Regions from separate parts of the Homo sapiens genome. Here region 2 is linked to region 1. Evidence: fine-mapped expression QTL. A gene starts in region 1. The other region holds a variant in brackets. All regions are shown on one strand. Distances are from middle to middle. Region 1 holds the start of SGF29 (SAGA complex associated factor 29). Region 2 overlaps SGF29 (SAGA complex associated factor 29).

What was found.
Region 2: its variant is fine-mapped to the expression of SGF29 in monocytes after R848 (Quach 2016, PIP 0.95). The same link has a PIP of 0.9 or more in activated naive CD4 T cells.

Annotation. Positions count from the first base shown.
Region 1 is chr16:28,551,015-28,556,382 of GRCh38, forward strand. SGF29 (SAGA complex associated factor 29) reads left to right here and starts at 2,906. Exons shown (of 10, transcript NM_138414.3): 1 at 2,906-3,083. RefSeq lists an enhancer at 2,875-3,194 and a silencer at 3,215-3,334.
Region 2 is chr16:28,588,874-28,594,241 of GRCh38, forward strand. SGF29 (SAGA complex associated factor 29) reads left to right here. Exons shown (of 10, transcript NM_138414.3): 5 at 227-291; 6 at 1,223-1,352; 7 at 1,423-1,569; 8 at 1,758-1,793; 9 at 1,900-2,062; 10 at 2,717-2,917. The coding sequence ends at 2,833. SULT1A2 (sulfotransferase family 1A member 2) reads right to left here. Exons shown (of 8, transcript NM_001054.4): 5 at 4,569-4,695; 6 at 4,379-4,473; 7 at 3,390-3,570; 8 at 3,070-3,267. The coding sequence ends at 3,155. Among named protein-coding and RNA genes, the nearest start is that of SULT1A2, 5.5 kb to the right of the region's middle. The variant A/G (reference allele first, on the strand shown) is at 2,797.

The DNA.
Region 1 (5,368 bases):
TGTTGCCTTGAACTCTTGGCCTCAAGTGATCCTCTAGCCTCAGCCTCCCAAAGCAGTGGGATTGTAGGCATGTGCCACTCTGGCCCGAATAGATGAGGGGAGATCATTTAAGATGGCATTGCTCAGTCTCACTAGTGGGCATACATCTCAGAGAAATCTTCATATAGACCGCAGGGGAATAAGCATGAGGTTGTTCACTGTGGCATTGTTTGTGGTAGCCAGTAGTAGTTGGAGGCAACTTACAGGTCCATCATAACTGAAATGTTGCTGCCCACTTCGAAATATTGCATGGTTGCTGTAAGTCATAGGTAAAGTGTGCCCACAATGACAGGTGTTGAAAGCAGAGGGCTGAGGCCTGGCGCGCTGGCTCACGCCTGTAATCCCAGGAAATTTGGGAGGCTGAGGTTAGTGGATCACCTGAGGTCAGGAGTTTGAGACCAGCCTGGCCAACATGGTGAAACCCCATCTCTACTAAAAATATAAAAAATTAGCTGGGCGTCGTGGCGCGCGTCTGCACTCCAGCCTGAGTGACAGAGTGAGACTCTGTCTCAAAAAAATTTTTAAAATAACAAATAAATAGAGAGGCCGTGCAGAGCCCAATGACGAAGTGTGTCATTAAGTAGAAATAAGTAACTCAACCTTAGCACCAGCGATTAAAAAACAGAGAACCTTTGCAGTTGTTTAGGGAAGATGTCCCTACTTTGGCCTAGGGTGGATGTGGTGGAGGTGAAAAGTAGGTGGATTGTGTTATATGAATGAATATGTGTAAAGGATTTTGAACAGTGCCCGGTGCATAGCAAGTGCCTAACAAATGTGTTTTTATATTGCAGACACGTGGTGGATTGAATGAGGGAGGGGAGGGAAAGGGTGATGTCAGGGATAACCCCCAGGTGCTGGCTCAGGACATTGTACTAAGTAGGAGGTGGGACATGAAAACTGAGTATAGATGATTCTTTTGAGAAATGTGGATGTGGAGAAGACAGAGCAATTCCTTACATGTGGACAACACTCTAAAACACTTTTTAAAAAGTTAATAAATACATGTTTATTGTAGAAAAATCAGAAATTAACGATAAAATTTTAAAACAGGGCAGAGACCAAAATAATTTAAAAAACAACTGTAAGCTCTACATCTCTCCTGATCAGTGACTAGGGTTGATTTTTTAAATTTATTTTATTTATTTATTTTTTGAGACAGAGTCTTGCTCTGTTGCCCAGACTGGAGTGCAGTGGCGCAATCTTGGCTCACTGCAACCTCCGCCTCCTGGGTTCAAGTGGTTCTTTCCTGCTTCAGCCTCCAGAGTAGCTGGGACTACAGGTGCGTGCCACCATGCCCAGCTAATTTTTGTATTTTTAGTAGAGACATGGTTTCATCATATTGGCTAGGCTGGTCTCAAACTCCTGACCTCGTGATCTGCCCACCTCGGCCTCCCAAAGTGCTGGGATTACAGGCGTGAGTCACCACGCCTGGCCTAGCTAGGGCTGATATTTAACAATCAGGAAAAAGAGCCCCTGAGACCTTTACAAATGCAAAATTTGCAAAATCCCTCAAAGCATAACCTTCATAAAAGGCAGTAAGTAGAACTGCAGCTGGGTGGATGGGCATGTCATTCACTGACCTGACGCCCACAGAAAGAACTGCAAGTGTGATGGAAGAAAATGATGCATTAATTTTGGGGTTAACATAGTTTCAGTGCTAACGCCTGAGATTCTCTAATAAACAGAAAAATACTGACGGGGCTGAGGTTGGTGGCTCATGCCTGTAATCCCAGCACTTTGGGAGGCTGAGGCAGGAGGATCGCTTGAGCCCAGGAACTCAAGACCAGCCTATGCAACATAGCAAGACCCCCATCTCTACCAAAAAAAATTTAAAAATCAGCAGAATGTGCTGGTGTGTGCTTGTAGTCCTAGCTACTCAGGAGCCCTGATGGCACCACTGCACTCCAACCTGGACAACAGAGCGAGACCCTGTCTCAAAGAGAAAAAAAAAGAAACATGTGATGGCCAGGCACTGTGCTAGGTACTAGGAATACACAGGTGAACACAAGATGATCCCAATCTCATAGGACTTGCAAGTTTATCAAATAATCAACAAATAATTACAGACATTTGTAGGTTATGTAAGAAACTTTAAGATACCAGGATGGCTTTCGATAAAATACCATTGAGGCTACATGTCCATTGCACGTCCATATCCTTAGTACTTTCCTGAGAAGATTCCCTAGAAGTGCGATTTCTGGGTCTAAAGATCTGCTTGTTTTTTGTTTGTTTGTTTTTTTGAGATGGAGTTTCCCTCTTGTCACCCAGGCTGGAGTGCAATGGTACAATCTCCAGTCACTACAACCTCCGCCTCCTGAATTCAAGCGATTCTCCAGCCTCAGCCTCCCCAGTACCTGGGATTACAGGCACCCGCCACCACGCCCGGCTGATTTTTGTATTTTTTAGTAGAGACGGGGTTTCACCATGTTGGCCGGGTTGGTTTCAAACTCCTGAACTCAGGTGATCCGCCCGCCTTAGCGTCCCAGTGTTGGGATTACAGGCGTGAGCCACCGCGCCCGGCCTGTTTTTAATTAATTTTTTAACAACAGACTTTTATTTTTTAGGGCATTTTTAGGTTCACAACAAAATTGAGCAGAAAGTACAGTTTTCATATTACCCCTGCGCCCACCCACCTCCAGCAAGCAGCAATCTGTTCGCTTTCAAGTTTTATTTATTTATTTATTTATTGCATTTTGTTTTAAATAGAGTCTGGGGAAATGGGAGAAAACGCTGAAAACGCACAAGCACTTTGGTTGGTTAAATTAGGGTTCCGCCAAGAGCCGGAGCGGTGTGCCAAGTGAAAACTACATTTCCCACGGGGCAGCGGGTCACGTCACAGAGGAACGACTACGCATGCGTGCAAGGTCCTCCGCGCGCGACTACGCTCATAAAAGGAAAAAAAAGCGTGTGCGGTTCTCGACGTGCCGCCAATCTTCGAACGCAGGTCTGTGATCATCCGCAGACTCCGAAAAAGGGTTCGAGGAACGCGCCTGCTCCCCTCGTCGCAGTTTCCAGCCCGACGAGCTTGTTTTGTCCCGGACTCGGTAGGTGGCGACGGGCCGTGGCCTGAGACCTCCGGCGAAACGCGGGAGCGAAGGGCTGAGTCCTCCCTCCGCGCCGCGGCTCCCGACCTCCCTGAGGCGGCGCTCTAGGGGCGGTGCGCACGCGCTCTGGGCGGGAGGGGGGCGGGGCTCGTGGGGGTGGGGGCGGGAGAGGAGGGCGGGGCCGGGGCTCGGGGAGGGCGGGCCCTGCGCCCGGCCGCTCGAGGTCTGCGCTTGCGTGCTTCCATCCCCGGCGAGGGTGGGAAACAGCGACACGCTGGGCTCGGCACGGACGCAGCTTCCAGGTGGGGTACTCGGACCCGGGTCACGAAGATGCGGACAGAGGATGGGCCCCGAACTCCAGCACTTATTTTATGATTTGCACAAAAATTTTGTATATATATATAGTTCTTAACAAGATACACTAACAGCTCGTCGTTTGCCCAGGAGGCTCAACCTCCCGCCTCGGCCTCCCAAAGTGTGGGGAGTATAGGCGTGAGCCCCCGCGCCCGGCCAAAAAATGCCCGTCTTAAGAACAACAAAACAGCCTCCTTCACCCTCGCTATCCTCCAGTTACCTCCTCCTCGGCTCCGGTTTGCAGCCAAAGGCCTTAGTCTACCCTCACTAATGCCTTTTCTCCTCCAAGTCTTGAACCCTTGAGCCTCTAGTCAGGCTTTGGTCTCCACCACTCCACTAAAAAGGCTTCTTGTCAAAGCCACCAGTGATCTCTAGGTGGCCAAATGCATTGTTAAGTTAGGTCTCAGTCCTGTTCAGCATTTGATGCTGTGGATCACTGCCCCTCCTTGAAACACTGTTTTCATTTGGCTTGCTGAACGTTCTCTTCCTTTGCCTCTGCTCTCTCTGGCTTCTCCTCTGCTGATTCTAACCTAGGCATCATCTCACATTTTTGTTTTTATTAGAGACACGTTCTCTGTTGCTCAGACTGGAGAACAGTGGTGTTATTACAGCTCACTGCAGCCTCAAACTCTTGGGCTTAAGCAGTCCTCCTAACCAAAGCCTCCCCAAATGCTGGAATTACAGGCATGAGCCACCGCAATCCCAGTTTCACATTTTAAATGTAAATACTGGCCAGGCGCGGTGGCTCATGCGTGTAATCCTAGCACTTTGGGAGGCCGAGGTGGGCAGACTGCCTGAGCTCAGGGGTTTGAGACCAGCCCGAGCAACGTGGTGAAATCCAGTCTCTTCTAAAAAAAAAAAAAAAAATTAAAAAATTAGCCGGGCGTGGTGGTGCACGCCTGTAATCCCAGCTACTTGGGAGGCTGAGGCACAATAATCACTTAAACCCAGGAGGTGGATGCTGCAGTGAGCCAAGATCGTGCCACTGCACTCTAGCCTGGGTGACAGAGCAAGACCCTGTCTCAAAAAAGAGTTCTAGAGGTGGAAGAAAATCCACATATAAGTGGACCTGCACAATTAAAACCTGCATTGTTTGAGGGTCAACTGTATAGCTATTTTAAAAGAGATTTATTGTGATGGATTGGGTGACACTATTATAGAGGCTGAGAAGTCCCGAGATTTGCCATCTGCAAGCTGGAAGCCCAGGAAAGCAAACCCTCAGGAAACTCACAGACACACTCTAAAGTGTTTCACCAGCTATCTGGGAATCCCCTAGCCCAATCAGTTTGACACATAAAGTTAACCATCACATTTCCCTAGCTTTGTTTTTCAGTTGCCTCAATCATCATTTTACTGGTGATACTTTGAGTGTTGTCATAATAGCCTAATGGTGGGTTGGCAGCTTCCACTTTTGTGATCTCTTTTACTATTGAATATGCTGAAGTCGTGACACAACTTGGAATTCAGAGGAAGAGCATAGGTTTTAGAACTTGCAGCCTTGCAGCCCCAGCTCAACTACCTATTTTTCCTGAGTTACCTAGCATAACCTATCTGAATTTCAGTTTCTTCACTATACTTACTATTCTGTTATCTATTTTATAGGATTGCTGTAAGGTTTAAATGAGAAACACTGGCATAAGTTGCAATACAGAGGCATGAAGGAAAAAAATTGTCTTCTTAATGTCTCTTTAACCAATTGATGAATATAGATTCTATTTATTTATTTATTTATTTTTGAGATGGAGTCTCGCTCTGTCACCCAGGCCGGAGTATAGTGGTGCAATGTCAACTCACTGCAACCTCTGCCTCCCGGGTTCAAGTGATTCTCCTGCCTCAGCCTCCTGAGTAGCTGGGATTACAAGCATGCACCACCATGCCTGGCTAATTTTTTGTTTGTTTGTTTGTTTGTTTTGAGACGGAGTTTCACTCTT
Region 2 (5,368 bases), 38 kb after region 1:
TTTCTAGTTTCACCATGAGGTTGGTCTGAATAACCCAGCCCACCTTGACCAGAACAGGAACCTGCACACACCTGTCATTCCACCTGCGCAGGAGGCTACTGTGAGAACCTCTGGAGTCCGGGACCAGCCTGGGCAATGTAGCTTGACCCAAAACAGAAAAAATGGAAGAGAAGTCTATGCTATGTACGTTAACCAAACCCTCTTTCTCCCTTCTCCCCGCCCTCAGCATCCTTCGGAAAGCTCTGGACAAGATCGCGGAAATCAAGTCTCTGTTGGAAGAGAGGCGGATTGGTGAGTGGGAGAGAACATGCTGGGAGGTCCTTTGCTAGGACAAGAGGAGAGGCCCTGCGGGCAGCAGTCACCCTCCTGTGGGGGCCTGTGGCCACCACCTGCTGGCATCCTCCCATGGAGGCTCTGGCAGACTGGCTCTACCACTGAGAAGGGACAGGAGGTCATTCCCAGTGCCCAGAGGCAGGGGTTTCCCAGTTCTCCCTCAGCAGCCAGAGATCATCCCGCCCTGGCCCCTCATCTCCTGCCCCTTCTGGGGCCTGGGCCAGTCGCCCCCTCCTCTGCCATGGCCCATGCCCATCTGTTGCCCTGGCTGGTTTCTGCAGAGCCACACGCTGTGTGTCGTAAAGCCAGCCTTCCAGACCCCCTCAGCCTGCATTAGGCTCTCCTACCTGTCTGCCCTCCCAACAATCCCATGGTGGGCAGAATCTTGGCATGTCAGTGTCCCCACACAGCCATGCTGGTTCTGTGTGAAGTCAAGTGGGGTGTCCAGCTGTGCCTGAGGAGGTTGAAGGTGCACATTTAATTTTTTTTTTGGTTTTTTTAACTTTCTGTTGAATTACAATGTATATTAATAGAAGAAAAGTACACATAAGTGCAGAGTTCAATGAAATAGTCACTAACTGAACACACTTCTGTAACCAGCATTCAGATCAGCAAACACAGCCTGAACAGCACCTTGGAACCCGCTTTCTTTCTTCTGGTTCCTCCCCCTGGATCCCCGCTGTGCTGCCATCTCACCCAACTGTAGTTAAACCCAGCAGCCCCTATAGGTGCTGACACATGGCCGATGGGGTCACAGTCCTGCTGGGCCCTCGGGCTCACTCGGGAACTGGGGGCTCCCAGGTGCTCCTTCAACAGCTCAGTGCAGCATGCTCGGGGGTCAAGGCCGGCACCTATCCCTGGGGCCTCAGGCCTCCCTTCCTTCCCACAGCGGCCAAGATTGCCGGTCTCTACAATGACTCGGAGCCACCCCGGAAGACCATGCGCAGAGGGGTGCTGATGACCCTGCTGCAGCAGTCGGCCATGACCCTGCCCCTGTGGATCGGGAAGCCTGGTGACAAGTGAGGGCAGCAGCTGCGAGGGAGGGGCTGGTGCCCAGGGGCTGGGACTGACCCTTTGTTCCACTCACAGGCCCCCACCCCTCTGTGGGGCCATCCCTGCCTCAGGAGACTACGTGGCCAGACCTGGAGACAAGGTGGCTGCCCGGGTGAAGGCCGTGGATGGGGACGAGCAGTGGATCCTGGCCGAGGTGGTCAGTTACAGCCATGCCACCAACAAGTGAGTGACACCAACCCTGGGGCTGCTCTCTGGTCACCGAACTTGCCTGGGCTACGGGAGAAAAGCTCTGCAGAGGGTGCTCCCCAGAGGCTGGTTGTGCAGGGAGCACCAGGTCCTCCCCCATCCTCACTCCCCAACAGGTACTGCGCCCCTGGCTGCATCCAGCCTTTTCCTCCTTTTGTCTGCAGGTATGAGGTAGATGACATCGATGAAGAAGGCAAAGAGTGAGTGTCCAGGCCAGGGCAGGGCATGGAGCCTGGGGGCAGCCTAACAGCTGAGAAGGAGCATCCCCACCCGGCCACAGGTTGATATAAGCCCCTCTTCCCCCAGGAGACACACCCTGAGCCGGCGCCGTGTCATCCCGCTGCCCCAGTGGAAGGCCAACCCGGAGACGGACCCTGAGGCCTTGTTCCAGAAGGAGCAGCTCGTGCTGGCCCTGTATCCCCAGACTACCTGCTTCTACCGCGCCCTGATCCATGCGCCCCCACAGCGGGTAAAGCAGCCTCCAGGGGAGAGGCCATGGGTGATGTCAGGAACAGGCTGATCAGACAGACGAGGGGTCCTCTCCCCACTCCTTCCCTTTGTCCTCATCTCACAGGCTCCAAGCTGACAGGACCCACCAGCTGCCCTCCCTCTTCCACTCCAGCCCCAAAGGCCACCATCCCTTTGCCAGCCCTGGCAGCCTTGGCAAGCCCCGAGTCAGTGGCTTCCAGCCCCAGGAGAACCAGCTCCGAGATGGGAAGCTCCTGCCCTGAGCCCTGGGCTCCTACCGCCTTGTGCTCTTGGTGACATGGGACACAAGCCACCTGAGGCCAGGATCCCTGCCTGCCACCCTCTGGGTTGCCCTCAGTCCTCTCAACAAAGAGTCCTTGAAAGGCAGCAGACCCTCCAGCTATGACCCCACTAGGAAGGGAGTCAGCACCCCTACTCCTCCCTGCCTATTCCCTGCCTTGGGTCTCCAGCCACTGAGAAAAGAGCTCTGTAGCAGCAGGGACTGGGCCAAGACTTCTTGACCCCAGAGTGAAGGATGTTAGGAGTGGCTGAGAGTCCACGGCCCAGAGCCTCCTGTGGTCTAGGCTGGGGGAAGGGGGTGCCTGTCCTGGCCTGGGGGTCTCTGAGCAGCCCCTCCTGTCTGCCTGCCCCACAGCCCCAGGATGACTACTCGGTCCTGTTTGAAGACACCTCCTATGCAGATGGCTATTCCCCTCCCCTCAATGTGGCTCAGAG[A/G]TACGTGGTGGCTTGTAAGGAACCCAAGAAAAAGTGATGCCGCCTGGCAGACTCGCCATCCCCCAACGACACAGGGCAGGACAGCAGAGGACGTGCTGGGATTAAACACATTCCCCCTCTACTCGTCTCCTGGGTTTTACTTCTCCAGACCCTCTCCCCTCTCCAAACAGGGCAAGTTGAGGAGCTGGAGCGGGGAGGTGGCCGTATTTGGCCCCAGTGGGCGATCACTCTTTCAGCTCAGGGTTTCTCTTGGCTTGGAATAGAGACTCTGCATTGAACACAAATCATACTTTATTCTGGAGCCTCTTGGTCAGGCTTGATTCGCACACTCCCTCTGCAGTGACTCCAGGAACCCCTCTCACAGCTCAGAGCGGAAGCTGAGGCTGCAGCCTGCCATCTTCTTCGCATAGTCCGCATCGAAGCGCTCATTCTGCGCCACGGTGAAGGTGGTCTTCCAGTCCCCAGCCATGCCTGGGGGAGGAAGGCAGGGAGCAAAGCTGGAGTCTCATCCCAGGGGAGGCCCCGAGTGCCTATGGGGAGGCTCCAGCTGCTGCTCCCACCTGCTCCAAACCCCCGTGCTGGCCGGCACCTACCTTTCCTCATGAAGGGGGAGATGCTGTGGTCCATGAACTCCCGGCGGACGGTGGTGTAGTTGGTCATAGGGTTCTTCTTCATCTCCTTGAACGACGTGTGCTCAACCATGAGGTCCACAGTCTCCTCTGGCAGGGAGCGCCCCACAAACTCCAGGATCTTTTGAATCTCCCTTTTGGGGTTCTGAGCAGCAGAGGGCTCCTCAGTGGAGGCTTGGATTGCTGATTCAGGAAAATAAAAGGGGTCCACTTCTCTAACCTCAGAGGGGAACTGGCCACTTCCACTTCAAAACCCATAGAGCCAGCTCCTCGACCCCTGGGACCCCAGTCCCTGGGGCAAAATGAATTGCTGTCTGCCCTGTGATCCCATCATGAGCTGGGCTTGGCTCCTATGGGTAAGGACTGGGATGGTCTTCTTCCGTGCCTGTGGCCCTGGGTGGCATAACCATTGGCAGGGAGAAGCAATTGGAATAGATAGCTGATCTGTGGCAAGGGGCCGTGGTTCAGGCGTGTAATTCCCAAGACTTTGGGAGGCTGAGGCAGGCGGATCACCTGAGCTCAGGAGATGGAGACCAACCTGGCCAACATGGCACAACACAAAAATTAGCCAGGCATGGTAGTGTGCATCTGTAATCTCAGCTACTCAGGAGGCTGAGGCAGGAGAATCACTTGAACCTGGGAGGGGGGGTTACACTGAGCTGAGATCACACCACTGCATGCCATCCTGGACAACAGAGCAAGACTTTGTCTCAAAAAAAAAAGTAGCTGATCCATGGCCACCCGTGCAGCTGACTCAGGCACAGGAGATGAGAGCTGTGCCCAGCCTGCTGCCACATGGGGCTGCAGTGGGGCCTGGGCCAGGGAGTCAAGATGGGGAATCCGGGCCTGCTGGAGGGGCCGCCCAGGGAGGGTGGCTGGGTGGCCTTGGCAGGTCCCTGTGAAGTGCCTGCCCCCAGGTGTCACGTGGAGGGAAGCATCAAAGGCGGTCTCACCTCCTTCATGTCTTCATAGAAGAGGTAGAGAACAGGGTGGGTGCGGCTCAGCTCCCACCACTCTTGCACGTGCTGGTACCAGGACCCATAGGACACTGGAGAAGCGGGCAGGGAGTGCCGACACAGGGTTGCTGTGCGTTGTAGCCACCACCCCTTAGCTCCACACCTTCCTTCCTCCCATCAAGCCCACCTTCTCCAGCCATGAACTTCTCCAGGAAGCTTTCCCAGGTCCCAGGGTGAGGGTACACTTTGGCCATGTGGTAGAAGTGGTAGTAGGAAACCGCCACATCCTTTGCGTTGCGGGCAACATAGACCACCTGCAGGGGCAGAAGACTCAACCCCAGCACCATCACCACACAGCCTGCCCCAGGCCAGCTCATCTCTTGGTTTGGCAAAGGAGGAAGCTGAGGCTTAGAGGCTGACTTGTTTGAGATCTCACGGCACAGGTAGGGCCAAGTCAGGATCTGAACCCTGCTCAAAAGCCAAAGTCCTGCCTGGTCCCTGAGACCATCATATTCTATAGTAATATAATCTGCATCAATGCGTCACACCCCGATCTGGAGCAAGGCATGCTCCACCAGGCATGTTCCCACCACCACCAAATTTTGTGGGCCTGTGAGGACCCACCCTCTACCTTTCTTAGGTCTACCCGGAAGAGTCTCATGTTTTTGGTCATCAGAGCAAAAGGCAGACAGTCCCCCCCGTGGAAGATGAGACAAGTCTGGAGGAAGTGAGGCGACTCTCCCAGAAGAACAGGACCAAAGCTGGGCTGAGCCGGGGCCTCCTTCCCTGGATTCACATGCCCCACACCTGGACCTTTGCTTTTTTCTTTTTGTTGTGGTTTTTTTTTTTTTTTGGGGGGGGGGACTCTAGGTCTCAAAAAAAAGAGAAAAGAGAAAAAAGACCTTGGGCTTTCTTTTTTCCTGTTGCCCAGGTTGGAGTGCACTGGAGTGAGAATAGCTCACTGCAACGTTGACCTCCCAGGCTCAA